Homo sapiens: one gene and its partners. The protein of the gene in region 2 interacts with the protein of the main gene of each other region in a pairwise test. Each region holds a gene or a part of one and is shown on either strand. Other genes may lie near its edges.

Region 1 (5,533 bases), on a different chromosome or scaffold from region 2:
TGCAGCCCTACCTCAGACCCCTCCAGACATCACCCAGCCCTTGAACACACCAGGACCTAGGTAGGCCTGGTGTTGTCCTCACTGGGAGAGCCCTGCTGCTGGGGGAGAAGGGCTGCGAAGCTCCAAACAGGCCGCCGTTCCGTCACAGGCAAGGGGCTGTGTACGCGTGCACCGTGCGTTGTTTTTATTACATCCTGCTCCCTCAGCAATCACGGCCCCTCCTTCTACCCACTGGAGGGCTGCGAACATCACTGCGGGGCCCACCTCATTGTCCGTCAGACTCTGTACCGAGGACGGGGTCCTGAACTGTGTGGATGATGAGCCAAGGGTTCCGGAACATCATCTCCAAGGAGGGGGTGTGGGAGGTGGGTCCTGGTGAGAGCCTTGGACCCTGTCCCTCGGCGGGAGGGGCAGTGGCACCAAGCTGCAATTTTCCACCCCGCCCCTGCTGTGGCCCCGACTCTTGCCATGTCCCTGGGGCTGCTGAGCAAGGTTTGTAGAAAATCACATAACGATGAGCACTGGGGCCTCTCCAAACTCCTGCTCACGCACTCAGGCGTAACCAACCTCCGCACCTCCCAGCATCCCACCTGTCCCTGTGGGCCTTTTTGGCAGAGGTGGGGCCCACCTACCCCAGAGAGCCTGAAGAAGTTTCCTTGCTACAAGCCCAAGCGTGGCCAGGTATAGCAATGGGTGTGCAGGTAAAGGAAGAAACATCCAAATTAATTTTGCAACTTTAATGTAACACTGATACCCAAAACATGAAAACACAAGGAAAAGCACAAAATGAAAGCAGGAAGAGCAAAGAGAGCTTCATCTTGCATGCCACCTCCGACTGACAGGAAGAAGCCGCCTAGGGTGCTGTGTCGAGAAGGAATCTGAGAGGAGGCGCTCTGGCTTGGCCAGTAAGATCGCTGCAGTTCGTCAACGGTGCCTATAAAAGCACAAGAAACCAAAGTGACAACATCCGTGGACACACGCGAACCAGGGAGGGGTGTACGTAACAAAATAAGTGTCCGTCCATGCTGTTGCCGTTGCCCCCAGCGCCCCCACCCTGGCCCTCCCTCTGACATCTCACCCCCCTCCGCAGCCCTCCTGCAGAGTCTCATTTCTCTACCGAAACTCTTACTGGATCCAGGAGAAGAAGCTGGCGCCAGCTCTGGCAGCATTTCTGGTCCGGATGGTGGAGCTGGTGCTGGGGCCATCTAGGACGCTGGTGCTGGCCCCTCCATTGGTGCCACTGCTGACGCCAGCTCTCCACGTGGCCCTCCTGTTGGCACGGTTGCTATTCAGAATGTACTGATGGTATCTGGCCCAGAAAGCAAAGGGGATCCTGGCCCAGGCATCGCCAAAATCTCCGTCCTCATCCCAGGTCAGGAGCTCGACTTGTATGTCATCCCAGCTCCACCGTCCAATCAGCGCTTCATCCCCGATATTCATCTGGGCCCTCATCTGGGCCCTGGCATGTTCCTCGGCCATATCCACATCCATTGTCTTGAAAGCATCATCCACAGCCTCCAAGAAATGAGCCTTCCATTCCCGGGGGTCTCGGTTCTGATTCTGAGGAGGAAAAGGGCAGGCATAGACACAGAGCTACCCCACACTGGCTGAGCACCCGCGGCCCGCCTCACCCCCTCCCGTGTGCTTTGTGCAATGATGGCAAAAATCAGGACCACAGGGATTGGGGGCTCCTACTCTCCTGTGCCAGACCTGGGATTTTGCCCCATCTGTGACCTTGTGTAGGGTGCTCAGGTGCCTCTGTGAGTGTTTGGTACCCTCACTGGAATACGGGGTAATGGGAAGGAGGCCTCGACCAAGAAACAAGCAAGGTGTGGAGAGCACCACCCCCGGTGCCGGGCACCCAACAGAGGCGCTCCCTTACCTGGGCGATGAATCTCAGGACCCTCATCTTGCTGGTCTCATGGCGGGCTCGCAGGCCCCAGAGGAATTCATACTCAGGTGGGTTGCTGTTGGGGATCTTCTTGTATTCCAGGTACCTTGGCATGAGAGGAAAGTAAACTTTGCTGCTAGCCAAGCAGACCTGTTGCTGAACGGATGGGTTCCAGGGGGCCCCTCCTCAACCCGATGCCGCAGCTCAGCTCCTGGAAGAGGACTGTCCTGCCCCTCCAGCCCTTCACTCATTCCCAAACCCACTCCCAGGACTTCTGCCTGCAAAAGTGAGGCCTTCAAAGCCTTTTGCCATTGGTCCTCCCCGGAAGCCATGCGGAGGTGCAGGGGGTCCACATGTAGGGCATTTGTCTGTAGGGAGGCCACAAGTTTGTGCCCCTCATCACGATGACCCCAGCTTCCTGTTGGGTGTGTTGTAAACAGAGGAGCCATTCTTCAGGCCCCCTGCTCTGAGCACACCCCACCTCGAGGGTCTTGGCCACACCCCGGCGGAGCCCTGGAGAGGCCCACCAGAGGAAACGACTGGAGAGGAAGAAACAGTCAGCCAGGAGAAGCGTGCTCCAGGCATCCTCCTCAAGTCCTGACCCTTTGTTGGTGTGCATGCGCGCCTGTGCGTTGGCAAGTCCTCCAGGGACGGGGAGAGGGTGGCCCCTGGCCTGAAAATCAGGAGAGTTGGGCTGAGGCCCTTACCAGCTGGGAGCCATGCTCAGAGGCGTCTCCTCTCTGAGCTCCGGGTTCCTTAGGTGTAAACCAGGGGGAACTCTTGTGTCAGTCTACAGGGCAGGTGCTCAAGGTGATGGCGGCCGTTTTCACACCCCACACCGTGTTCTCAGGTGACGTGAGCTCCCTTTTCCCAAGACCGCCCTGGCCTTCGGCTCCCCACACACTCGCATACCCCCCACTGCCACTCACTCCCAGGTCAGAGGCACCCATCCCTCCAGTTGAAGATTTGGGATAGGGAACTGCTTTCTCAGCCAGACCAGCACACAAAGGATGCTCGAGTGAGAGCCGCAGTTAGCTCAGGTGATACTTACTTCTGCTTCACAAAGTCATCTGTGATGAGCTTCCTCAGATCGCCGAGGAATGGGTGCCTCACCCTGAGGGCAAGGAAAGGAATCCATGAGCAGAGACGGTGGCAGGGGCCCTCCCTAGCATGACTATGACTTCCCAGCCCCCGGGGAGTCGCTGTGGAGGCCTGGGCATGCAGCAGAGGCCAGAGGACTGTTGGTCAGGGACGCCCCAGGTAGGGATTTGATGGAATCCCTGACTCTGACTGTCTCTCTTAGATGTCATCTGGGGCCACAGAGCAGAGAGAGGGCTGAGCAGCGTCCAGCACCGCTTCCCCATCCGCCCTGGTGAGATCCTTTGCTCTCTACCGAGCCCAGGGCACCCCACGCCCTTGCGCCAGACCACCAGGCTATTGCAATCCCAGGACCTCTTTGGCCAGAGGATAGCACCGAGGGGAGGAGCTGGAGAGGCCAATCATACCCAGGGCGCAGTCCCATCTTGCGTAGTGCCTCCCAGAGGACAGCTGCGAGGGGAGAGGAGGTACGAGAGTTTGGCACCCAGAAGATGAGACTATGGGCAGCCCCCCAGTTGCAGGTCCAGCCACTCACCCTCGCTGGCACGGTTGCCATTCATGAAGATGACGCCCAGAATCACCAAGAGGAGACTCAGCCTGGGAGTGTCCTTGGTTCTAAAGGTGTGGAAAGAGAAATCCTGTTTAGCAGCTATTTGCCTGAGAGACACCACCAGGCTCTCCCAACTAGCCTCTCTCAGGTTTCCCAGCTTGAGGGGAACTCTTCCCAGGACAGGCACAGTTCACTAGCTGCTGACAGACCATTCGCACCTCCGCCTGAGACTTAATCGCCTCCTCTATAAAACATGGGTACTAACACTTCCCTGACAGGGTTCTGCAGAGGACAGGGCGAGGCAGGGAGCCGAAGCTCTGCAAATGGCAAACGTGTGCCCAGAGATGGCTCCAGACCTTTCCTGCCCCTTCCACATCAGCACCTACACTGAAGAGGCAGCTCTCCCCTAGGCCAGCTCTGCCAGGCCCAGGCCAGGCAGGCAGGAGGAAGAGGCACTTTCCTCCGAAGCTTTGGGGATAAAGCCCGGCAGCAGCTTGGGGAGAACTGATGGCAGCAAGGCCTCACCCCAGGCTATCATTCCTTTCATCCAGCAGTCACCAGGCAGCCCTCGCTGTGTGTGGGAGCGGTGCGCCGCACTCAAGCCCCGTCTTCCTGCTTCACTGAAGGGGTGTGGGCAGGGAAGGGACACCACCGAGGAAGGCCACGACCCGCTTTCCCTTTCTTACTTTCCAAGGAGGCGAGCTGAGGAGTCCCGTGTGCAGACAAGAATATACAGGTGTTCTTCCTTGTCGATCTCCTTCAGGTGGATCCCAAACTTCTACGTGGGGGAGAAAACAGAGTGTGAGATCCAAACCCCATGCTGGGCATCCTGCCGGCAGACAGTGATTCCGGGTTAGAACTGCTCCTCAGCAAGGAATCCAAACTCGTGAGCGAGGGCAGAAGAAGACAGCACACGGAAGACCTTCGCTGTGGGAGCTGACGCTGGCAGAGGCGATGAGACCCACCTGGCCAGACGGCGAGACACTCAGAGAGCATGAGAGAGAGAAGCCGAGGGCAGGAAGCACGAGTCAAACTGCCAGTGCAGTGGAAGCTCAGAGTCGGAGAGGTGAGAGATGGCTCCAGAGACTGGGCCTTGAGGGGCTGCAGGGTCACCGCACCCCCATGCCCGCTCTTCCCCCACAGAGCTGCTCCCATCCTGCACCCACCTTTTCCAGGGTGTACGTTGCTCGTTCAATGATCTCAGGGAAATGTTCATCATATTCTCTGATGACATCCTTCAGCATGTCTGCAGGAGGGGGAAGAGTTGGAGAAAGCACCTGGGCTGAGCAGGGGTCATAGAGCTGTAGCCCCTTGGTCAGCTCTGCCGAGGGTGACGCAGCCAGGACCCCGTCCTGTGGCTATGGAGGGACCAGCCGTGGCACGCAAGCAAAGGGATGCCCACAGACTAGGGGATGGTGAAGGGGGCACAGGCTGCCTACCTGCGCGCTTGATGGGGATCTTCTTGTAGTCCTTAATCATCAGGTATTTCACCAACTTATTTGCCTGGAGAAGGAGGAACATGCGGGGAGGTCAAGGCATGGGTGACAGCAGAGACGTGGCCCACAAGGGAGGAGAGGAAGGAGATGGGGGAGGGTGGGCTTCTTACCCTCTCCTGCAGAAGGGTCACGTTGCGGGGGGGCAGGCACAGTACGTGCCTTGAGGGTATCTGGGACCTCGGGGCCATCGGGGGCCGAGGGGCCAACTGAGCCCGCACCGTCAATGAGGGCTGTGATGCTCTCCAGGTGGGTGGGACCGCGGGAGTCTCTCTCTCCTCCTCGCTGCTCTCATACTCATCATCCAGGTGCTTGGACTGTATCATTTGAGAGAGGAGAGACCCAGGGCTACCAGGCTCCCCGTGCCAAAGCACCCGGCACGCACCTCACCCGTAGCAGGCTCTTGGAAATGAGAGCAGTACCAGCAGCGGCTGGCATGTGCTGCGTGCTTACTAAGTGCCAGGCACTGAGCCAGCCTCTTCTCCCACCAGTCCTGAGGGT
Region 2 (8,494 bases):
CCCCCCACACCAGCTGGAAGAAGGCTTGGGGGAGGAGGTGGTCAGGGAGCTCTTGTCTGCTGGCCTCAGCCACCTGTCGGGTGAGACCCAGAGCCAGGAAGACAGAGCTCAAAGGAGCCCTTCCCAGGCACCGCAGGCCTTGCTGCTTGTTGGCCCGCATGCTGCAGCCCCACCCGTGGCCAGGCCCACCAGCAGGCCCGCCGGTTGGACACCTGGTCAGAGTGGGCTGGGGTCCATGGATGAGAGGTGTTGAGGGGAGCCTCTTCTGCACTCAGGATGTGGGGCTCGCTGCAGTGGGGGCTGCGGAAGGGCCCCTGCCTGGCTGGAGAGCTCAGCCTGAGAAGCAGGGCTTGCCCTCCCCGCACCCCATGTCCTCACTGCTTCCTGGTCCTGTAGCCCCTGGGTGTCCATCTTGGGTCAGGACCCACAGGAAGGCCAGGGAGGAGGATGGAGCAGGGCCTGGGTGGCGATCCGGGCCGAGGCCCCTGGAATAAGGGCATAGGAGTGACAGGGGGTCCCGTCAGAGGGTCCTGGATGCAGCATCCCTCCCTGGAAAGCCTGGGGTGTGGGCGTGACACATGCGACCCTGCGTCTCCCAGCCACATGCAGATGAGGATGCAAGAGCAGCCTTCAGACGACAGAGTTTATTTCAGACTCAGCCTCCACTCAGGCCCGGGGTTCCTGTGGCCACTGGCCAGTGAGGGCAGGCCACGTTCTCACAGTGCCCACCACCACCTTCTGGGAGTTCGCCTGCTGCTGCGCGCCAAGGGCCACGCTGGGACTGGATGTGCTAAGGAGGGGCTGCACGAGGGGCTTCCCCAGGTGCAGTGGGCTGAGGACAGTGTGTGACGGTCGCCGCCAAAAGCAGTTCTACTCTACCTGTTATTGCATTATACGCTGGTTAGACTCAGGTGGTGCTGGGTGCAAGCTGGAGGGGCAGTCTAGCGGGGCAGGGCGGGCACAGCTGTGAGGGGCCCTCGACATCCCTGCCTCCCCGCCGGCGTCGGGGCTCCCCTGGAGCACAAGCTGGGGAAGGCGACCCTTGGGCAGCACCCCCTCCACACGCAGGCTTCAGGGCTCCGTCTTCCCACCCAGCTAGGCTTGGGTGGTGTGGGGAGGTGGCATTGAGGCTCTGCTGAGGTGAGTGCCCACCCCAGGTCCGTCCCACTGCATTCGCCCAGGCAGACCCCCGGGGGGTACGCAAAGAGCAGAAATGGGGCGAGTGGAGCCACCGCGCCCTTTAATGTCCCCACGAGGGCCGGGCCCAGGCCCAACCCATCCCGGCACCCCCACCTGCACTCAGACCAGCCCTGGGGGCCCAGGATCACCCAGCCGCCAGGGGTGGGGGGGGCCACACACAGGGTCCATTCCTTTCTTGCCGTTCCCCAGCTGTGCCCTCGCCCCACATCCTGTGCTGTGGACCCCGGAGCCTGGGCTCTTTCTGCCCTGGAGGTTGGGGAAGTCCTGGGTCAGCAGGGGTGGGCTCGGGCGTCCTCTTCACCGTGCGCGTGTGTTGGGGGCGTATGTAGGTGTGTAATGAATGTGCGTGTGTACGAATAGGTAAGGGTGAACTCTGCATGCACTGGCTTCCTCGGGTCTGTACAGGAAGTGGCTCCGTGCCCCCCGCCTGGCCCCCAGGTATTATTTTTTCCGGACCAGGAAGGCCACACCGAGAATCAGGGCTATGGCTGCCACGGCCACACCCCCAGCCACCAGCAGGGGGTTGAAGTTCTCACAGGACCAGGGACCTCGGCCCCCAGGCCCCCCACTGGCAGCCTCATCTTCCTCCGCCCCGTCCCCAGGACCCTTGGGCTCCGGGGTTGCATCGGGACTGCTGGGGACCGTGGGGGCTGGCTTCAGGTTGCTGTGGTTGTTGAGAAGGGCAGGGTCGGCCTTGGCCGAGGTCTTCTTGGCAGGTGCCGTGGTGGGGGCTGCTGGCGGCTGCTGCTTCTCGGCCGGGGCCTCCTTCTTCGAGGGCTTGGTCAAGGGGGCTTTCCCATCGGCTGCCGGGGGTACCTTGGCCTCGGTGGTGACCTGGGGCACCTTGGTGTCGGGCTTGGGGCTGCTGGCTGACTTCCCTCTGGACTCCATGGTGGGCGGGGCGTATGGGACAGGCAGGTGGCTGCACCAGAGGGGCTCAGGACAGTTTGTCGCCCCTGGGCATTCTATGGGCCTGGAGGGAGACACAAGGGAGGCTGCGCGCGGGTCCAGTCCCCCCTGTGCTGCCCCGACCACCTGGTCCCCAGGCAGCCCCTGCCCAGTTCTCTGGACTCTCTGGAGCCCCAGCTCAGGGGCCTCCCGTGGGCCTCTGACACTTCTCTTTCACGGCCTGGACTCCATCTGTCCATGACCACTCCTCAAGGGGCCCCTCCAGCCGCAGAGGCAAGGGCCACGCACAGGTGGGAGGAGGTAGGGGACCCCACTGTGCTCCATAAAATGGCCCATGCAAATGCCACATCCTCCCACCAGCCGGGGGCAGGAGGCTCTTGGTGGGGAAGTAAGGATCAGGCCCAGAGAACTCGAAGGAAGAGCATTCTCCCCTCCAAGGAGGTGATCGGAGCCCCAGTGGGAGAGCTGACTGCATCCCCTCCTCAGGAGAGCATTCCTGCTTTGCAGAGATGGACACTAAAGCACGGAGGCTGTGACCTGGCCAGGGTCCCAGGGGGAGGAGGGCGGGGAGGGGCAGGAGCTGGGATCTCAGGCAGCCATCAGGGTGGGTGGGCCCACAAGAACCCAGACTTGAGAAAACTGGGGTGTCTCTCCAGGAAGTCAGCGTGGGGCTGTGCTTCCAAGGGCCGTCTGCCCCTCCCCAGCCTCTGGGGCCCCCTCCTCAGCATGGGCCGTGCCTGCCTCCAGCCCTGGAGCAGGGAGTCCTCGCCCAGCCCAAGGCTGTGCTGTCTCTGTGGGCAGAGGGTTCCTGGCGTTAAACAGGGTGGGCACATGCTGCACTTGGCCCGCGGGTCAGGGCGGAGGACAGGGTTCTGGGCTGTGGGAAAGGCGGTGCCCAGATTCTCAATGACCGAGGCAGAGGTGGGAAGGGCCCTGGGGGCCCAGCCGCCCTGAACCTGAGTGGGTCTTGCCCCAAAGCCCCAGAGGCCGCCTGTCTGCCTCTCCCAGGGAAGGATGAGAAATGCCCTCCAGACCTGCAGAGAAAGGGAGGCACGTTCCCCACCCCCCGCCAGGTGCATTGACCACACTGAAGGTCACCCGAAGGTCACAGCATGATGAGGGCGTCTCCAGAAGAGGCCCAGCTGCTGCCACCTCCCAGGGAAGCCCAGCCGTCCCTTCACCCCTGCAGTTCTCGGGGGGCTCAGCTGCTGGGCATCAAGTTTGCAAAGAGCAGGTGGTCTGCCCCCCCAACCTCGCTATTTGTGGCACTTACATCCCGGCCGCCGCCTCCCTCTCCCGGGATCAACTGAGCCCTGGAGAACTGGGGGGCCCGCGCGCAAACCCAGTGACCTTCAAGGCCCGGAGCCGCCTCCTCGCCCCGCAGGACGCCGCGCCCGCCCCGCCCGCCCCGCCCGCCGGGAGCCCCCCGCCTTACGCGTCCTCCGGCCTCCCCGGGGCTGCGCGCTCCTCCGCGGGATGACGGCGGCTGCGAACGCGGAGGAGAGCTCGGGAGTTTCCCACAATGCACTGCTCCCGGCGCAGGAGGGCGGGGAGGGGGAGGGGCGACCGGGCCCCGCCCCGCCGGGAACCGTGGGATCCGCAAACCCAGCTCCGCCTTAGATCCAGGGGTAGAAACTTAGGGTCCGAGAGAGCAACTGCGGGGTCCAAGTCCCATCTGGGACTGCCAGAGGCAGGAGGCGGGTCCCGCTCAGCATCCCCTCTAGGCCAGGGTGCCCCTTGGTCGGTGGGTGACGGGTCGGTGGGTGAGGGGTCGGTGGGTGGGTGCGCAGGCCTAGCCCTGCAGTCTGAAGGGAGCCAGTTATGGGAAGAGGGGACTGCCCTCCCCCGCCCCCAAACAGACCCCCAGACAGACAGCAGCATCTACTTAGAATATTTATTTATTCTCTGACATGACAAGACACAAAAAGTTACAACTTCTTAAAACTCTTCAAAAGAAAAAAATATAATTCTGTAAGCAGCAGCAGCAGCTTCCAAGGTTCTGATGTGACGGGAGGGGCAGCTCCCAGGAGCAACCGTGAACTGGGGGGGTCCAGGCCTGAGCCCCAGGTAGTGTCGCTGGGAAGGGGCCTCTGTGGAGGGCCCCGGTTTTGGGGACACAGCACCAGCACATCAGGGTCTGTCACCAACACGATCACATGGCCAGGGCGGGGCAGGGAGAGCTTCGGCTCACAGCAGGGATCGCCCGGTGGCAGGGGGGATGGGGCTTCTGAAGTGTGGTCAGGGGCCTTATGCCCGGAGGCGGGAAGGATGGGGCTTCTGCAGTGTACCCAGGGGCCTTATGCAGAGGCTGAAAAAGGAGGGTGGGCCCTGAGAGGACTTGGGGGTGTGGCAGCTCCTGGCCCTCCCTCCAGAGCAGGGCAGGCACCCTCAGGCTCCACACTGGTCCCAATGCCCGCCCTGCTCCCTGGCCAATCCCAGGCCAGGGTGGAGGACTCAGGAGAGACCAAGCTGGGTAAGTTAGTTCCTGGACGGGGTCAACAGAGCCTGGGGCACACACAGCACACAGAGCGCCTGGCCACGGCGGGAAGGGGGGCAGTCCCCAGCAGCCCCATCCCCAAGGGCCAGGCCAGATCCCCACAACACACACACGCATGCACACACACATACACACACACATGCACACAGACCTCACAATCTGGGCCCCAGCCTGGGGTGGGAGCTGAGGAGCCCACCAGAAAGTCCCACAGTGGGTGGCGGGCTTGCCCCAAGAGTCAGACCTCAGGGCAACCCCTCACTTGGGATTCCTGGCTCAACAGAGAGGGCAGGAGACCCCAGTCCTCTTGCAAGGCTGGCCAGGGAGGCAGAGTCAAGTCCTGCCAAGGCGACAAGAGCGGCTGGGGAAGGACGGAAGGGCTGGAGAGCCGCTTGGGTCCAGCAGATTCAATAAATAGGTTTGTGTGGGGTGCCTGTGTGGGCCAGGATGGCTGTGGAGACTGGAGCTGGTGGACTGGGGGTATGGTCCAGCCTGCCCGGCCCAGGCCCGGGGGCCCCCAGCCCAGAGACCAGCTCTGTCCCTGGGGGTGTTCAGGCCAGGGCAGGATTGGGGCAGGGGCTAGCTTGAGGAATGTAAAGATTTCTGCATTTTCTACATAAATGAGACATTGATCCCAACGGTGCAGGCAGCACCCCGGGGGGCTTGCGTGTGCACCACCTATGTGGACCCTGCACCCTGCCCCCTGCTGCCCCTGCCGACGGGAGGGCTGGGGAGGGGTCTTCCCTTGCTCCGTCCTGGGCTAGCTGCCTGGCTCCAGCCCCACACCGGCCCTGCCCAGCTGGCTGGGGTGGAGCGGGTGCTGGGCTCAGGCCTGGGGGTCCTGCAGCAGCCCCAGCAGGGACTCCGCGATGCCCAGGAAGTAGACCACCTGTGCGATGCCGAAAAGGGGCGCGATGACCAGCGCGCGGCAGTAGGCGCCCTTCAGGAAGGCCGAGGGGCCCTCGTGCCGCAGGATCTTCCTGTGGAGGAAGGACGAAAGGGTCAGCCCGGTACGCAGGCCCCCAGGCCCCACCCGCCGTGGGACCTCCCCACCTGGCACAGTCCAGGATCCCAGAGTAGGTGTCCTCGTTGACGCCTCGCTGAAGTGACTGGAGCCGCGTCTTCACCACTGCAAGGGGCGCTCGGGTCAGTGTGAGCCTGGCCAAGGGCTCAGTCCCGCCCCATCCCCAGCCGGGCGCCATCCCATGCACTGACCATCACAGGGGTTGACGGCCACAGCGGCGGCACTCCCAGCCACACAGCCGGCCAGGAAGGACACGTAGAAAGGCGACTTCTCCTCGGACGCCGGGCGGCCCAGCTGGTTCAGGTTGGCAAAGAGCGGGAAGTACACCACAGAGAAGGGGACATCCCTGTGGGGAGGGAGGTGGCCGTGGGGACAGGAGGTGGTGGGGTGGGCAGGCCGGCCTCCCCCTTCCCTCCCCCCACCTGCCCTGTGCCTCCTACCTGAGCAGCGTGGCCCCGAGTCCCTTGTAGAGACCGGCAATGCCACGGCTCCGCAGCAGGTCGCGGGTCAGCTGGGTGGCCGTGGGCCGAGGGGCAGCTGGAGCCTCCACTGAGGGCTGGGCACCCCCCTGGGCCGAGAGCTGGCCCTGGGCAGCCAGGATCTTCCTCTGGGCGGCTGGGGACAAAGAGGCTGCTGTCTCCTCTTCTGTGCGAACTGGGCAGGGGACACGCTCTGGCCCTCCCTGCGTCCCCACCCTCCCCTCGCCCTCACCTCTTCCCGCACCTCTGCCCTCTCCTCCCCCTCCCCCCGCCCTCACCAATGCGCCCTGCATCCTGCAGCTGGATCTTCAGCATCTCCATGGGCGTGGTCACGATCACCTGGCAGGTGCCAGCCCCACAGCCCGCCAGCATCTCTTTAAGCAGGGTCAGCTTCTGCCTGTGGTAGGGGCGGGGCCGCAGTAAGTGGGAAGAGACAGGTCTACCTGCCACCCTCGGGGCTGCCCACCATGCCTGGGCGCAGAGGATGGTGGGAGCCGTGGAGGCAGATGCAGGCCTGTGGGGGTACAGCCCCCAGCCTCCGCCACTGCAGCAGCAGGCAGGGAGGAGACCGATGGACAGACGGCCCCACAGGCAGGGGCCTGGGGAGGGCAGTGGGGCTGTCTGCGACAAAGGAAAATGGGAAATTGGGGGTCAAGTGCCCCAAAAAGGGGCTGCCCTTGCAGTCCCCCTCCAGTGATGGGGGAGCTGGTCAGTGCCCTCAGGCCAAGGGCTACCAAGCCAGAGCCCCACTGATTTGACATCTGCTTTGCTCCCCTGGTCAGGGGAAAGGAGGGAGGGTGCCCCACGAGGTCAAAGAAGCCCCAAGCAAGGGGCTGAAGACAGGCAGAGCCCCCAGGTGGGACCCAGCTGGCAGGGTGGACCCATCCTTTATCTGAAGCCAAAGACCCCTCGAGTGTCTGCCAGGCAGAACCCTCACCCGTCCTTAGAGAGCTGATGTCGGAAGAAGTCGTTGGCTGCCAGCTTGATGGCCTTCTCGGGGGTGACGAGGGTCAAGTTCACAGCAGCTCCTGTGGGGCAGGGGGTCAGCTGGGGGGACATGCTCGGTGGCCTGAGTGGGGAGGCGCTTGGCCAGGACTTGCCTCCTGGCTGGCAAAACCCTGTCCCAGTCACTCCTGGCCACCATCTGTTCTCTCACCCACATTTGGGCCTGGTGTGTGCCAGGTGGGGCGGGGCCAGGCAGGGATGGGGCAGCACCTCAGGCTCAGGCTCTCCCATGCCCACTGCAGCTCCATCTGTCTCTGATTCTGGGCAGCATCTTGCTGCTCAGGGCATGAGGACTGCCCCGGAGCCCCTGAGGCCTCCCTAGGATACCTCTCCCTCCCTGGAGGACAGATGGTGCTTGTGCTGGCAGGGGGCTGGGGCCAGAGGTCACAGGAGTGTGTGGTCTGGACTGGGCCAGAGCTCGGGGGAGGCTGTGGAGAGCCCCCATCTCAGTGCCGAAGGCTCAGGGCTGGAGAGCTTCTGCCAAATCTAGGCTCTGGATTGTGTCCTAAGCTGCTTTGCGGTAATGCCCCTTACTCCCTCCCATCCCCAGCCACAAACGGGGTCCAGCCTGGCCCAGAAGGCAGAGGCAGCTGTGGCCACCAGAGAAGAGACAGATGTACCATGGCATCCCACGCACCAGGCACTAAGTGGGGGTGGGGAGCTGCCACGGGAGAGGCTGAGAACTACCACTCACCAGAGATCCAGTCCCCCCTGCACAGGCACAGCCCCCACAAACACGTCCACGCTCACACACCAGGCCCAGGCTGGCCGCCCTGCCCTGCCTCCCCCACCGCTCCCTGCCACGACTCGCGGGCGCTACCCAGGCCTGCCCATATCGAGCCCAGCCGAGCCAAACCTCACCCCGGTACATGCCGAAGTAGCCCTCGGAGCGGACGGTCTTGATGAGGCAGTCGGACCTGTGGCCAAGGGGACAGGGTGAGCCAGGGCCAGCTGGGGCCAGCCGGAGGCCAGGGTCCCTGGACTGTCTAGGGCTGATAGAAGAGGCCAAGTCCTCAGCCCAGCCCCGACCCCAGTCCTGACCCACGTGGGATCTCCCCTAGGCCCGCCTGCCTCCCGTTTCCCTTCTGTCAAACAGGGTGGGGGGCACAGGAGCAGAGCCCCCACCTCTCCTGCTGCCACATGCTGGGCCCACTCCCCGCGACCGCCCGGCACACTCACATGCTCGTGTACACGCGCTGGCCGTTCTGCTGGTTCTGCAGCCTGGTCTTGGCCAGGTCGATGGGAAACACGCAGGTGACACCGATCAGCCCGGCGATGCCGCCATTGATGAGCTTGGCTGGCAGGCTGTGTGGACAGGGGTGTCAGGACCGGCTTCCTTGACCATGGGTCAGGGTGGGGGTGAGGCACGCAGCCAGGACTGGA
Region 3 (8,049 bases), on a different chromosome or scaffold from region 2:
GGCCAGACGGCGAGACACTCAGAGAGCATGAGAGAGAGAAGCCGAGGGCAGGAAGCACGAGTCAAACTGCCAGTGCAGTGGAAGCTCAGAGTCGGAGAGGTGAGAGATGGCTCCAGAGACTGGGCCTTGAGGGGCTGCAGGGTCACCGCACCCCCATGCCCGCTCTTCCCCCACAGAGCTGCTCCCATCCTGCACCCACCTTTTCCAGGGTGTACGTTGCTCGTTCAATGATCTCAGGGAAATGTTCATCATATTCTCTGATGACATCCTTCAGCATGTCTGCAGGAGGGGGAAGAGTTGGAGAAAGCACCTGGGCTGAGCAGGGGTCATAGAGCTGTAGCCCCTTGGTCAGCTCTGCCGAGGGTGACGCAGCCAGGACCCCGTCCTGTGGCTATGGAGGGACCAGCCGTGGCACGCAAGCAAAGGGATGCCCACAGACTAGGGGATGGTGAAGGGGGCACAGGCTGCCTACCTGCGCGCTTGATGGGGATCTTCTTGTAGTCCTTAATCATCAGGTATTTCACCAACTTATTTGCCTGGAGAAGGAGGAACATGCGGGGAGGTCAAGGCATGGGTGACAGCAGAGACGTGGCCCACAAGGGAGGAGAGGAAGGAGATGGGGGAGGGTGGGCTTCTTACCCTCTCCTGCAGAAGGGTCACGTTGCGGGGGGGCAGGCACAGTACGTGCCTTGAGGGTATCTGGGACCTCGGGGCCATCGGGGGCCGAGGGGCCAACTGAGCCCGCACCGTCAATGAGGGCTGTGATGCTCTCCAGGTGGGTGGGACCGCGGGAGTCTCTCTCTCCTCCTCGCTGCTCTCATACTCATCATCCAGGTGCTTGGACTGTATCATTTGAGAGAGGAGAGACCCAGGGCTACCAGGCTCCCCGTGCCAAAGCACCCGGCACGCACCTCACCCGTAGCAGGCTCTTGGAAATGAGAGCAGTACCAGCAGCGGCTGGCATGTGCTGCGTGCTTACTAAGTGCCAGGCACTGAGCCAGCCTCTTCTCCCACCAGTCCTGAGGGTAGGGACTACGTGGAGTGAAAACATGCTCAGCAAACTTGTGTTGGAGAAACATGGACTAGCTGAGAGGAGAGGAGGGGAGGAGAGGGGAGGTGAGGAGAGAAGGAGGGGAAAGAGGAGAAGAGAGGAAGAAGGGGGAGAGGAGAGGGAGGAGAGGAGCAGGAAAGGGAGGAGAAGGAAAGGACAGGAGCAAGGGGGTGTGGAGGTGGCAGGGGGCAGGGGGATCTCACCTTCTTGGTCCTCTTGCCTCCCATCCTGGCCCAGGGCTCAGCACTGTGCTGAGCAGTGGCAGCAGCTGCACCCTCCGGCTCAGGGATGCTCGTGGCCATCTTGGCCTTGGCAGCAGCTGCTGCCACAACATTCTGAGGCTCCACCCACCGAGTCTTGGCCAGCGCCTTCCCCGACTTGGTGGTCTTGGGCCGGGTGGCTGCCACCTCCCTGCCAGGTCCCGTCTGGGGCACACCAGAGGCAGCACTGGGGCCCTCTGTGGCAGCCTCTTGGGCTGGGGCAGGTCTCTTGGGGCGCGGGAAGGCCATGCCACTGACACCTGCCGGCTGAGTGAAATCGAAGACATCATTCTGGCCCAGGAAGGCTGTGCTGGGCCGGTTGGCGTCCACCTCCCTGGCACACGGAGCCTGAGAGAAAGCACAGGCGCTACTAGGGCCCTCAGTAGCAGCCTCCTGGGCCGGGGAGCCTGTCTGGGACTGTGCGGAGGTTGCCGGAGCCTCGGGGGCAGCCATCTTACTGGTGACTAACATCTGGGAGGTCTGCGGAGAAGCAAGGGGTGGCTCAGGGGTGGGCCCCTGAGCCTCGGCGGCGTAGGTCGTGGGCTGGGTATCCTCTCCTGAGACCTGCGGCGTGGCCACCCGGTGGCTAGCGACCACCTGACTGAAGGCGGTACGGGCAGCGGCGGCAGCGGCCCGAGCCGCACGGTTGGAGGCGGCGGCGCGGGCTACGTTGGCAGCACGGGCGGCCGTCTCATTGGCAAGTGTTTCCGGATCCAGCTGCAATGCCTCCACCAGGGTCTGGGCCAGCACAGGGTTTTCCAGTTCCCAGGGCTCATTCTGCAAGGCCAGAGAGAGGGGTTGGGGAAGGCAGGCCACTCGACGACATACTTGTGTTAGCTTCCCTGTGCTGGCCAGCCTCTTCCCAGCAGTCAGCCCTGAACACCCCAAGACCTTCCCAAATCTTCTTCTTCCGAGCAGGGGAGGGAAGGCTTGGGAAGCTGGGCAGTCCTTTCCCACACAACCCTCCTGGCTCCCCCCTCCTCCCTCCCCCATTCACAGGGGAAAGGCCCAGGCCAGCAGGTGTCCAGGAAGGGGCCTCACCGATAAGATGCGAAGGCCTGGACCCAAGCTTCCGAAGGCTCTGAGGATATGGATGTCAAAGCTGGTGAGGGTGCCATAGCCACCAAACGCACCGAATTCTTCATAGTCGTTGCCTTCAACCATCTCTTCCTCCCCGACTTCGTCGCTACCCTCATCCATGTCTTCAACACTGTAGCTTTCCGATTGCACGCTGAAGCTTCCCTCAGCCATGCTGCGGGTCCCAGGGAGATGAGAGCTCAGCCTGAGAGGGAGGGTGAAGCAGCTGCAGGGGGAGGGGGCGGGATCCAATGGGAGGCGGGATCTCCCGGGAGGTGAGGGGCGACAATCATCAGGTTACTAGGCAATATTAGGCAGTAGGGGGCGGGGGGGGGGAGGAGGAGCGGGGGGGAGACGGTTTGGCTTTCTGATGGGGTAGACCTGGTCAGGGACAGAGCCCAAGGAAAGGGACAGAGGAGGTCGCAGGAGGCGCCGCACTGAAAGCGGAGTTTAGGATGGGCAGGCTCGCCATCCCAGCGGCTAGATTTGACGAGGGGGTGTTCTGGAGGGCTGGGGTCCGAAGAGTCCCAAAGGGAATGCATTGGGGAAGAGAGAAACAAAGGGTTTGGATTTACGGGCCAGAGAAGGGGACCGGGATGAAGGGGGAGCAGATGGGAGAGCTCAGACAACAGGGACAGTGGCAAGCCGCAAGCTCTGCGAAACAGAACCCCAGGGACCTTTGGCTAGGTCCGGGCGGGGGGCCTAGGTGGGGCTCAGACTCGAGCACTAGAGGCGGATGGAGTGGGGGCCTCAGACCTAGGTGAGGCTCCAATCGGAGCGCTGCAGATCTCAAACGCGAGGACTGGGCACTCCAGGAAGGGGGCAAGCGGTCAGCTCGGTTCGAGTAATCTAGGAGTGGTTGGGGTGGGGGTGGGGCCTCAGGTCCAAGGGAGCTCAGCTCGGAGCACACGGGTCTGCTAAAGGGGTGAGGATCCTGGGCTCCGGTTTCAGTAGGGCTCAGATCGGGGCGCCTGGGTCTGATGGTGATGGGGGCTCCTATCTAGACCTTGGGTCTAATGGGGTTCCGGTTCTGAGTGCTTGGGCTTTGTTCAGATCCGGAGGCGGAGGGAGGGCGCAGCGTGTCGGGTTCCACTCGCCCTCTCCCGGTCCTGTCTGGGGCTGGATCCTTACCTTCTCGGGAACTCCAATGGCGTCCGTCCTCAGCACCAGGAACCCCGCAGCCGCGCCCTCGCCTACTGCTGCCAGCACAGCAGCCCGGACCACCCCGCCCCTTTTCTCCGTGCACCCCCCGCGGCTGGGTAGCCTGCGCATGCGCGGACCCCTCCAGCCCGCCCGCTTTCCCAACAAAAGCCCTTTCCTCCAGGTCTCCAGTGCGCATGCGATTCCGCGGGTGGGTGGGCGGTGGGGTCGAAGGTAGGGTGCGGGGGGCTCTTCCCGCCAGATCCACTTCACCTCTCCTCCTCCTCCTCCTCCTACCGCGGGCGCGCACACTCATACCCTGCAGTGCAGCTCGACCCACCCAATCATCTCTTCTCAGTCCCCCCACTTTTGCACAATGCTTCTCTGTCCTGCCCTGCCCTTTCACCCAAACTCCTCCAGCCTGGTCTGGGATACACTATGCCCCGTTTCCCCGGCAAGACCCCTTAGGTCACAATTAGTGAGGTCTCACAATTAATAAGCTGGGTCTCTAACTGCAACAAGTGGAAATCCTCAACCTGCGGGGCTACGAAATGGACATGGCCAGAGGATGGCACTTCGCTTTGTGTGCTTCTCCACTAGCCAACTCTCTGGCCCCCAGACATACTGGGAACATCTGCTTCCTCAGCTACCCTTTATGCAGCTTGTATGTCACAGAGGGATCTGTGCTGGGGCTTTTCTTCCTCTCACAGCAGCGCTGGGAAGTGGATGTCAGCATCCCCATTTGGCGTGTCAGGAAGCTGAGGCACAGACACATTGCATGAACTAGACCACAGAGCCAGGAAACAGAAAATGCAAAATTTGAACCTGGGTCTTCCGGACTCCAAAGTCCACCTCCTGCTCCTGCTGGCCTGGGGACAGAGGCACCGCCTCCTCCGTCTGAGTGACAGGCCTCCCCCACCCCAACATCTGTCCCAAAGAAGCAAGGTTTGTGCTGTAGAAGGCCTAAGTTCATGCTCCGCATTCAGGACACAGGGAGACAGAGCCTCCCCCCGCCTCGCCCCCAGCCTCTGCGGCTCTATGTGGGTCCATCCAGGTATGAGAATTGCTCCACCGGGTCCACTCTCTACTCAGATTGTCAGGCCTCTTCCTTATCAGCGATACAATCACGCTGCCGCTGAGACCCTCCTGGTGTCCGCCAGGACAATTAGACACCTGTGTGTCTGAGCTAATTACTCCACAATCTACAAGCCCAGTTCAAACTTCACTTTTGAGGTCCAAGTGCATAGTACATTCACCTGCCTACGTGACATCTCCACTTGGATGTCTTTTGAGGCAGAAAATGCTGTGGTCTCATCTGCAGTCGAACCTGGACTGTTTGTAAAATTCGTAGTAGATTTTTATATTTGTTTTTATGTCAGCCTCACCAGGACCCCTGTGTATGAATGGAAGGTATTGCTAGGACAGCAGCTTTTACTCTCCGCTGACCAGTATCCATTCTGCCTGGCTCTGTGGTTTTCTCCAGCTGTTATATATCAATCTCTCCTGTCAGCTGCTTGTGCCTCTTTAGCCCTTCCCCTGTAACATATCCTCTGCGGGAGAGGAACACACCCTACAAACGAAAGCCTTCAGAAAGTGCTACGTGCTAATCACTCCAAAAAATCTACAACCCCAGTCTGAACTTCACTTTTGAGGTCCAAGTACATACATTCACCCACCTACGTGGCATCTCCACTTGGAAGTCTCAAGGGCTCTTCATGGTTTGCCTGTCCAAAACTGGTCACTTGGTATACTCACTCCTCCCATACACTCACACATCCCCATCGCTCCTGTTCCCCCCCCCCCCAACCCATCTTCACAGTCTCAGTAAATGGCGCCATTATCCACACAACCACTCACTCCAGAAACTGGGAGTCATCGATCACCACTCCCCGTTTCTGATACGCTGCATCCAGAAGGGCAAGCTCTGAAGGGTCTCCAGAGCTGCCTCTCTGTGCAGCTGTCTTCTCTCCATTACTCCCGGCAAATTCTGGTCCTATGGACCTCTTGAGCTCTCAACTCTGTCTCCTTCACTCAGACGGTCCACCGGGCTCTGTTGTGTTCAGCTCCCCTGTGCTGCAGCCTGCAAACTCTATCCGGGCAAGAAGTTGGTGGAATTGGGCGATCAGAGGGCTCACCTGGTCAGGTTCCCTTTCTCTCAGGGATCACTGTCCCGTATGCAGGTGGTGCCATGACGTTAAGCCTTATAATTTTTTTGGTTTATAGGTATTTAGGCGAGACGGTAAGTCCGGTTCCTGTTAATCCATCATGGCTGGAAATACAAGTATCCACCGGATTTCTTAATTTTCTTTTCACTGAGCCCTGTGCTTTCAGGAGGCCTCCACGTTGCCACGCATAATCTAAAGTATGTCCAAGGTGCTATGCACAGAGAATCCATGGTGTGCATTCCTGACATTTTACCTATCTGCTCGCCCAGAGATTTACCCTTTCTCCTAAGTAACTAGAAAATCAGAAGAAAACCATAAGAAACATTTAGATGTCCAAAGAGAAGAATGACAGCACATTTCTCATTAGCAATATGCAAGTCAGAAGTCATGTGGCACACCATCTTTAAAATCGTGAAATAAAAATAAATGTCAACTCTTAAGTCTATACTCAATGAATATCTTTTCAAATGAAGTTAAAATAGTAGGTGTTTAGACATACAGAAGTTGAAAGAATTGATCATCAATAGACTTGCACTGTAATATTTTTTAAAACTTTTATGTTTGGGGGTACATGTGAAGGTTTGTTACATAGATAAACACGTGTCACGGGGGTTCGTTGCACACATGACTACATCACCCAGGTATTGAACTCACTATCCAAGAGTTATCTCTTTTCTGCTCCTCTCCGTCATCCCACCCTCCCCCTTAAGGAGACCCCAGTGTCTGTTGTTTCCTTCTTTGTGTTCATAAGTTCTTATCATTTAGCTCCCAATTCTAAGTGAGAACATGTGGGATTTGCTTTTCTGTTCCTGCGTTAGTTTGCTGAGCTTATAGCCTCCAGCTCCATGCCTGTTCCCACAAAAGACACGGCCTTGTTCTTCTTTATGGCTGCATAATATTCCATGGTGTATATGCACCACATTTTCCGTATCCAGTCTGTCATTGATGGGCATTTATGTTGATTCCACGTTTTTGCTCTTGTGAACAGTGCTGCAGTGAATAGTCCAGGTGCATGTGTCTTTATGGTAGAATGCTTTATATTCCTCTGGCTCTATACCCAGTAATGGGATTGCTGGGTCAAATGGTAGTTCTGCTTTTAGCTCTTTGAGGAATTGCGATACTGCTTTCCACAATGGTTGAGCTAATGTACACTCCCGCCAACCGTGTATATGGGTTTCCTTTTCTTGGCAACCTCGCCAGCATCTGCTATTTTTTGTTTTTAGTAACAGCCATTCTGACTGTTATGGGATGGTATCTCATTGTGGTTTTGATTTGCATTTCTCTAATGATCAGTGATATTGAGCTGTTTTTCATATACTTCTTGGCTACATGTATGTCTTCTTTTGAGAAGTGTCTGTTCATGTCATTTGCCCCCTTATTAATGGGGTTGTTTGTTTTTCTCTTGTGCATTTGTTTAGGCTTTTTATAGATGCTGGATATCAGACCTCTGTTAGATGAATAGTGTTGCAAAAATTTTCTCCCACTTTGTAGGTTGTCTGTTTACTCTGTTGATAGTTTCTTTTGCTGTGCAGAAGCTCTAAGTTTAATTAGATCCCATGTGTCAATTTTTACTCTTGCTGTGATTGCTTTTGGTGCCTCTGTCGTGAGATCTTTGCCTGCTCCTATGTCCAGGATGGTATTGCCTAGGTTGTCTTCCAGGGTTTTTATGGTGTTGGGTTTTACATTAAAGCCTTTAATCCATCTCATGTGGATTTTTGTAGATAGTGTAAGGAAGGGGTCCAGCTTCAATCCTCTGCATACGGCTAGCCAGTTATCACAGCACCATTGATAGAATATGGAGTCTTTTTCCCACCGCTTGTTTTTGTCAGCTTTGTCAAAAAAAAAAAAAAAGAAAAAAGCTGGTTGTAGATGTGCGACATTATTTATGGCCTCTCTATTCTGTTCCATTGGTCTATGTGCCTGTTTTTGTGCCAGTACCAGTACCATGCTGTTTTGGTCATTGTAGCCTTGCAGTATAGTTCTTTTAGCTTACGATTGCCTTGGCTATCCGGGCTCCTTTTCTGGTTCCATGTACATTTTTAAATAATTGTTTCTAGCTCTGTGAAGAATGTCCTTGGTAGTTCGATGGGAATAGCATTGAATCTATAAATTGCTTTAGGCAGTGTAGCCACTTTAATGATATTGGTTCTTCCTATCCATGAGCATGGGATGTTTTTCCATATGTTCATGTCTGCTCTGATTTCTTTGAGCAGTGTTTTGTAATTCTCATTGTGGAGATCTTTCACCTTCCTGGTTAGCTGTATTCCTAGGTGTTTTATTTTTGTGTGTGTGGCAATTGGGAATGGGATTGCCTTTCTGATTTGGCTCTCAGTTTGGTTGGTGGTGGTGTATAGGA
Region 4 (7,652 bases), on a different chromosome or scaffold from region 2:
AAAGAGAATTCCTTCCCAGAAAAGGGATTTTAGAGTTATCAATTCATCACAATGTAAAAAAGTGAAATAAAATTTCACTGAAAGTCCAAAAATATTTTTCATTATTAAAAAAATACAAAGTTTATACTAATACGATTTTTGATTTTATACATTTGACTCTGAGGCACAATTTTTTTTCCATTATGGAGGAAAAAATCCATATTTTTATAAGTTCCACATTATTGCAATGAACTGTGTATATGCTGGTGAGGGGGAATTGGGACAAATAATTTTTTTTCTTTTTTTACTTTTTGGGACATATAATTTTAATGTACTGTGACTCTGCCATCTAGCTATTATTACTTTTTATACAAGATTTGGAAATATCTCTCTCATTCAGATATTTTAAATGTAATAGCATTTGATATGATATACTCGCACCTAATAATCTGGTCTCCACTAAGGACTTATTGTAATTAAAAAGTTAAACAAGTTAGCTGATGGACAATAAATCTGTTTTAAGGAGGGAAGAGAAAACAGGCCCTTGTAAATATTAGCTCTTAAGTGCCAGCTACTTTATATGCAATATCGTTTGAAAGATCTCCTACCATACTAAATAAAGAATTGGAGGCCATTATCCCTATATTATAATTAAAGGTGGGGGAGGGGAGAAGATCCTCACAAGAATTCACAAAGCTAGATATTATTACCCTTCCTCTCTATTTCTCAACAGATGAGAAAAGTGAGGCCAAAAGAAGCTAAGCAATTTGTTCAAGGCCATCATGCAGCTATGTAGTGGGGTGGATCCGGGTTAATTCTAACTGACTCCCTGAATCCATGCTTTTTGTTCTGAACCTTGCTGCTTCTTACAGCTTCCCAATAGTCCAAGAATGGCTTTGAAGCTTCAAAAAGCATAAAAGGGAGTCTAAACCCTTGGGGAAAAACAAACAAAACAGATCTATACATATACATGTATATATAATTCCCCTCCCCACACCCTCATGCCATGAGCTTTCTTTTTAAGCTCTTCTTAGTGCAGCTTTCAGTCCTTGGGCCCAAATGCATAGCACTAGGTCAACTCTGGGAAGGCTCAGAAAGGCCCTGGATTCAACAATGATAAGTAGCATGGACAGGTGCTTACGAAGTATGGTGACATACCCAGGGCCTGTGTGAGGACTACAAGCACTCAACAAGAAAAAGTTTGTCCAGTGCAAGTCAGAAGTCATATTCGTTCCTAAGGTAAGAAACAGGATTTATTAGAAGGGATAGCTTAATTTATTGTGAAATTCTTCAAAATGCAAAAAGTAACAATTAAATAATCATGAAAATTCAAACCCTGACTACCAGAAGCCACTAGATAAATGTTCAGAGTTGAAATGAAATTGACTCTATCTTTCCCACACTATGCCAAAAAAGCTCCCTGAATTTCCTTTAAAACATTATGTAGTAATAAAGCAAGGACAAAAAGTACTTGAGATAACTGCAAAAAAATTATTTGTATGAATAAGTCTAAGTATACTACTGATGATTTTACCTGGAGATGTTCAAAAGTGAGATAAATTATCAACACTGAAAAATATCAGTATTATCAAAAAGATGATAGCACCTGGAATTTTCAAAACAAGCCTAGAAATCCGTAGCTGAGAGGAAAGGAAAAAAGTGTCCTGGCAGCTGCGCTGACATCACCTCCTCAGATTTGCTTTATTAATCCAATCATATCAGCAGCATAAATGATTAAATCAAAAGACTAACGAGGACTAGTAAACTTCAGTCTAACACTCAATCCAATGGGACGGGGCCCCTTGGCATATCCCTAAGTGGAATCAAGTACTTAGAGTAGGCTAGAAAAGCCTTTGAAAAAAATCACTACACTTTCTATGTATACTCTCCCTGACAGAAGGAAAGCTAATGTAATCTTGTGAAATGTGAATTTTGGACAATAATTTCAAATTAAAAGAAAGTAAAGCAAGCTGTTTCAAATCATTGCATCTTAGAAAGAGGCTAGAAGGTAAAAACAGAAAAGAAAGACACCACAGTCCACTAAACAAGAGGCCAAAAAATATGCAATAAAGCTGTCAAGAGTCACGGATGGCCAATCACCTGCGATTTTCATCCAGCACATCCAAGATCTGCTGGTATGCCCTACGAGTAGAAGACTGGATAAGCGACAAAATGCCACGAGCAGAGGAAAGATTAGCTCCATCTTCAGGTAACATATGGGGAGGACAGACCCGAGCCTGTTGTGGCGATGGTGTCACACTGTTTACACAAGCACAGCAAATGAAGAGAAAAACACTCAAGTCAGATTTTTATAAAACTTCAGCTGAGCAGTCTTTATCTTAATTTTCTTAGTGTTCTTGCCCCTTTCCCACCCTTCACTCTCCCCACAAGAAAACAGTCAAAGAATAAATATTTTGAATTGTTTCCAAAAACTAGCTACAAGGCAGCACTTATAACTTTGTAACCCTAAACATCAAAATAAATAAACTGAATATGAAAGAACTGTAGAGAGGGAAGAGAACTACAGCAATGAATGTGTTCAACCCCTCCCATGGAGAAGCAGCATTCTTTACTTCGTGTTTATATTCCAATTCAATAAACCAACTTCTAAGAAACAACACTGCTGTCGACTTATGGATGATTAGAAGAGTAGGACAGGGAATTCTCACATACAGATGTCAAAGTTTAAACACATGAATCAAAAGTGTGATTCCATAAAAACACCATTTCAAACACTTCGTAAAGCCAATGAAGTTGAAGTTTATGACGAATAAATGACACTGATTTAAGGATGAATTAGTCTTAGAAAATGGTAACAAAGCATTTTGATTGTTTAATTATAGTAAGCATATGTTCTCTAGTTAAATGACTAAAGCATAAAAATATTCCCAAATCTGTGAATACAGCAAAAGAAGGCAAGGACACTTCTTAAATTATCAATGGCTGATAACCATTTCTGGGCTTCTTAGTGACAATAATCTTAATCGTTCTTTCATGTGTGGGCTGAGATTCACAATTTCATTTGACTCCCCTGCCAGTGCTTTCTGAAAGCTGAATGAACCAATTCTTATGGTTCTAACCTAAACTCTTAAGATCTGTGTCAGTATTTTCAGGGAGCTGTTTAACATTACAGTATGATTATCTATTGTGAGGTATTTAACTGACATACAGACTACGACAGTGGAATGAGGGCTCAACATTCTCAACGTCAAGGCAAAACTAACATCAGGCTAAATGTCATCCAATGTGTATTACATCTGAAAGAATAAAAACAAAGCAGATGGTAAACAATTGAAAAAAGAAAATCTCTTATTTTGACTGTGTAATCTTTTCTAACAGCATGTATTTGTTTGGAAACTACAAAATAAGTGGGATAATTTTTGACAGGATAGTTATAGTCATCTGATATTATTCCCAGAGTCCCAGAAAATTAAAAAACAAAATCTCCTCCACAGCTTTATGAATAACTTTGAATGGCTTGGTGATCCAAAGACAGAAGTACCATAATATGAAAACCATGTTTTTCAAAGATTACTTAAAAGATCTAAGCCAAATCTTAACGTATAAAGCAACTATCTATCAAGCCTGATTCACTATAGGATTTAGGTCAAATTTGGTGTCAAGATAAACTCAAATTTTCAGATGCAGTCTCATGACCAGTGACCTTAAATGTCCGTCCAGAGACTGGCAATCTCTGGGAATACATATAAGCCAACATTATCTACTGATCCATGGTAATTGGCAAAACCCATACCAGGCATTCCAGAAGGGTAAAAACAAATAAACAAACAAACAAACAAATAAAAAAAACATCCTATTTGTGAAACAAAACTATATGTTAGTCTTACACTCAGAATTCTCTTTAGGCAGCACTGGGAAAACCTGAAGCTCTTACTGCTTGTGAGAATTAAAAAATGGTCAGTTCTACATCAACATAAACAAACAATCCATCTTACACTCTTCTTGATAGAGCAGCCAGCGTTAACTGCCTAAATTCACTCAAGCAAGTTTTAAAGGACAAATCCGTACTTTGCCTTTGCATTTGGGGGTTTAAATTGAACACTTTGTGTATCATTCTGTACTGATAAATAAACCAGCTATATACTAACATATTAAAGGCTACAATAATCAATATTTAGAATTATAATCTTGGGGCAACAGTATGAATGAACTAAACTCAAATCCATGAAAAAAACTTAATGGATGTTGGCCCATTAAAAATTAAAATAAAAGAAGGGTTACTTCCTCTAAGAGAAATCCTTTTGCCAGAAACAAACAATAATGAATTGTTTATTTAAACTGTAAAAGTACAAGTATTTTCTGTCCATATATAGGAAATGAGGAGGTCATCTTATAAAATAGTCAAACATAAACTTACTTCAGACTAACTGCAAAGAGTTCCTAAGATGGAATGCAGAAGGTTGGATTCTAAAACAATCTATAAGATCTCTCTCAATTCTAAGATTTTACGATCACATGAAATTGGAATACAATGAGAAAAAACCTTACATGATCCTCAGTTATAATTTAACATGAAAAATACTTATGTAGAAAGATAAAAGATGAAATTAAGTTTTTATCAATACTAGTAAAGATATTTATTTCCTCAAAAACCAGCATCAAAAACATAACTTGAGGTTCTAGTTGTTTCTCAAAAGAAATTAACATTTCAAAGATTAGTAAAAAAATTAGCTTTTCATTCATGTGTATGGCAATCCTCCATAAACAAAAAACGAAATCGGGAGTATTTTTTTTTTTTAATTGATGACTACTTTTGCCAGTGTTGTATAGATTAAATGTCCTTGTTTGGTAACATTTAATTCCATCCACAGATGAAATAAATCACCATTAAGACTGCCAAAACTACATTAGTAATTAGAGGCAATAAATAATTTAGCAATTGTCTTTCCTTTTTAAAACTTTAAGCAGTCTTGTTGGTATTTTTTACAAATAAATGTAAAAACAAAAAAGAATAAGCTCCATTTTAGCAATCAGTTTGACAGGAGCTAAAATGTACTCCACAGCTATCAACTGTGGAGGGAAACAGCGCTTTCATCTCCGTCCACTCATGGACCCAACCAAGGTTTAATGACTTCCTGTTTCTGTAGTTTTGACAAGTGAACTATTGTGGAAAATAAAAAAGTAAACATACTGCAAAGGCACTGAGAAGATTAAGTAAATGGCATTATATATATATTAGTAATTTAATAAAAATGCAATTTGATAAACTGATTCCAGTGATATTATAAAATAGCAAAGTCTCAACATTACCTTTTTAAAAGAAAAGATTAGAAAATTTTGAAGAAAGCACTGATGTTTACCATGCTTCATTAGTAATAGCTCTACCTCATGCTTACATGAAATCTTATCACATAAGAGTTACATAAACAACACCAGGGCTGGGCACAGTGGCTCATGCCTATAATCCCAGCACTTTGGGAGGCCAAGGTGGGCAGAGCACTTGAGGTCAGGAGTTCAAGACCAGCCTGGCCAATATGATGAAACCCTGTCTCTACTAAAAATACAAAAGTTAGCCGGGCATGGTGGCATGTGCCTGCAGTCTCAACTACTTGGGAGACTGGGGCAGGAGAATCGCTTGAACCCGGGAGGTGGAGGTTGCAGTGAACTGAGATCACGCCATTGCACTCCAGCCTGGAAGTCACAGTGAGACTCCGTCTCAAAAGAAAAAAACAAAACAACCAAAAAAACACCAGCCAATTGTCAGAATTAAAATTTAAATAAAAATTTACTTGGCATAACTATATCATTATTAAAAGTAAGTTCAAAATCAAGTACCTCTTTGAGTTTTCATAGGAATAATGTTTCCCAACCTGTGAATTTAACCTCTTCGGTGAGGTATCACTCTTCCAAAAAATAGGGTAAAACAATAAAGAGAAAAAATTTTCACTAAAACACAAATATATTAATTTCTCTTGGAATTGTAAATACAGAGGAAATTTTAATATATTGCCACTATCTATGGCAACTGAATAGTTCCTGGAAGCATAATAATAGAACCAGAATAAGAGGAAAACTGTTGGCTTTCGGTGCAGTTTCTTCTGTTGCTTAAGAAGTGTATTAGCTATTGAATACCTGTATTATATACCAAAACGTTGTGCTCCATGAGTGAGTCATTCTCATACCTTATTTTGTCACATGGAAAGAGTGGGTTTAATAATAGCAAAAAAGTGCTTCCAAGCATCGTTTTCATCTATGGGATTATAAAATAAATGACAAACCACACTTATGCTCCATTCTCCTTCAGAAACAAGATAGAAGAAGAAAAGACAGTGCGCTGAAATTAAAAAAAAAAAAATTGGGATCACTGCACCAGGTGACGTTGAATCTGTTGAGAACTATTATACCAACCAAAGCAAAATAAACAAAAAAGGATGCTTGGTCCTTATGTGCATATTATATTTCAGGTTCCTTTCACCAACACATGCAAAATCATATACAACTTCCTTAGATGGTCTAGTTTTTTTTTTTCCTTAATAAAGCATATAATGACAGTTTGAGAAATCCTGAAACAGAGGTACTAAAAAGCCAAACAGGAAGATAATTAGGATAGCATACGTCAATTACCTGGTGAATAGATTAGTATTAACATAATCCTTCAAAATCAAAACAACTACTTGTCAAAAGCAGAGCAGATAAAATCTTACGTGTACTCCGGTGCAGAAATCGGTGCCTGGAACCTTGAAATTTTATTTCTTGGGGCAGAATCTGATCTGTGCCACCTTAAATAATAATTATGCTTCTTTTACATATTCAGCTTTTATAACACAAAGAAAAAGCTAGATCTGATTTTACTGTTTAGAATTCACTTTTGCGCTAATAGCTGACCACAATCTTATTGCCTCTTCGAAGTAATTAAGAAAACAAAGGCTAGTGCTCCTGCTCTCATACCCGTTCGCACTTTTATTCTTAAAGCCATGGAATAAAATAAAGTGGAGACAGGCAAAGTTTCATGCACTATGACGCACAACAATTTCATGTTACAAAGAAAACACTAAAGTAGGTAAAGATAGTAAGAGTTTAATAATTATTTTAATAGAGGTATTATATCAATTGTTTTTTCCTCACTACGTTAACAACACTGAATAATATGTTCATTATACAAAATTCTAAAGTTAGTAAGATGTAGATTCTTAAAGATAAATTGTAAATTATAAAATTAACAACAGTAGGAAAAGAAAGGGCAAAGTTACATTATTAACAAAATACATACATAACATGGTAATATACTTTACAACCATAATGAAAAATATGGTTAAGCAATGTTAAGTGTTTCACTGTGAAAATGTATAAAGATTCATTACTTTTACTATCAAAAATGAGATTTTCAGTTTTACTAAAAATTTAGAAAATGTCATTAAAGCAACTTAAAGAAAAAAAAAGAAAATCAAGTATTAGTTAACACTGTAAATCTTTTCTGTTATGAGGAACTTATGTTATTGAGTAAATACAAAAACATCTATATCATCTACTCTAAATTATACTTCACTGGACTGGTTTTCGTACATAATAAAGGGGTTTCCTTTCTCTTCAGCTGAATGCAGCTATAAATAATATATACTTCGGGAGAAAAAATAAGAGTGGTGCTATATTACAATAATCTTGTTTTTATTAATATAAAATGTCAAAGTAGCTAAGAACCTAAATAGTAAGCC

The links.
Region 1: the proteins of CEND1 (region 2) and MAGED4 interact in binary tests that used the Homo sapiens proteins (3 or more experiments, as listed by UniProt).
Region 3: the proteins of CEND1 (region 2) and MAGED4B interact in binary tests that used the Homo sapiens proteins (3 or more experiments, as listed by UniProt).
Region 4: the proteins of CEND1 (region 2) and MFF interact in binary tests that used the Homo sapiens proteins (3 or more experiments, as listed by UniProt).

What each region holds. Positions count from the first base shown.
Region 1 is NC_000023.11:52,187,458-52,192,990, reverse strand, and holds the end of MAGED4 (melanoma-associated antigen D4), read right to left. Parts: intron 5,350-5,533; coding exon 5,146-5,349; intron 5,043-5,145; coding exon 4,979-5,042; intron 4,786-4,978; coding exon 4,706-4,785; intron 4,318-4,705; coding exon 4,226-4,317; intron 3,605-4,225; coding exon 3,525-3,604; intron 3,440-3,524; coding exon 3,397-3,439; intron 3,006-3,396; coding exon 2,943-3,005; intron 2,647-2,942; coding exon of another isoform or gene 2,599-2,646; intron 2,370-2,598; exon of another isoform or gene 2,243-2,369; intron 1,998-2,242; coding exon 1,883-1,997; intron 1,561-1,882; coding exon 1,130-1,560; coding exon of another isoform or gene 1,126-1,129; exon of another isoform or gene 1,118-1,125; intron 935-1,117; coding exon 925-934; 3' UTR 723-924; downstream 1-722. UniProt on the Homo sapiens protein: May enhance ubiquitin ligase activity of RING-type zinc finger-containing E3 ubiquitin-protein ligases. Proposed to act through recruitment and/or stabilization of the Ubl-conjugating enzyme (E2) at the E3:substrate complex.
Region 2 is NC_000011.10:786,486-794,979, forward strand, and holds CEND1 (cell cycle exit and neuronal differentiation protein 1), read right to left. Parts: upstream 3,606-8,494; 5' UTR 3,545-3,605; intron 2,174-3,544; 5' UTR 2,092-2,173; coding exon 1,642-2,091; 3' UTR 630-1,641; downstream 1-629. Other genes in the region: SLC25A22 (mitochondrial glutamate carrier 1), read right to left, coding at 5,430-5,583, 5,657-5,732, 5,819-5,973, 6,068-6,242, 6,385-6,503, 7,044-7,134, 7,973-8,103, 8,291-8,416.
Region 3 is NC_000023.11:52,065,611-52,073,659, forward strand, and holds the start of MAGED4B (melanoma-associated antigen D4), read right to left. Parts: upstream 3,574-8,049; 5' UTR 3,520-3,573; intron 2,615-3,519; exon of another isoform or gene 2,594-2,614; 5' UTR 2,563-2,593; coding exon 2,353-2,562; intron 2,089-2,352; coding exon 1,255-2,088; intron 844-1,254; coding exon 640-843; intron 537-639; coding exon 473-536; intron 280-472; coding exon 200-279; intron 1-199. UniProt on the Homo sapiens protein: May enhance ubiquitin ligase activity of RING-type zinc finger-containing E3 ubiquitin-protein ligases. Proposed to act through recruitment and/or stabilization of the Ubl-conjugating enzyme (E2) at the E3:substrate complex.
Region 4 is NC_000002.12:227,341,812-227,349,463, reverse strand, and holds part of MFF (mitochondrial fission factor), read right to left. Parts: intron 6,720-7,652; coding exon of another isoform or gene 6,645-6,719; intron 2,239-6,644; coding exon 2,080-2,238; intron 1-2,079. UniProt on the Homo sapiens protein: Plays a role in mitochondrial and peroxisomal fission. Promotes the recruitment and association of the fission mediator dynamin-related protein 1 (DNM1L) to the mitochondrial surface.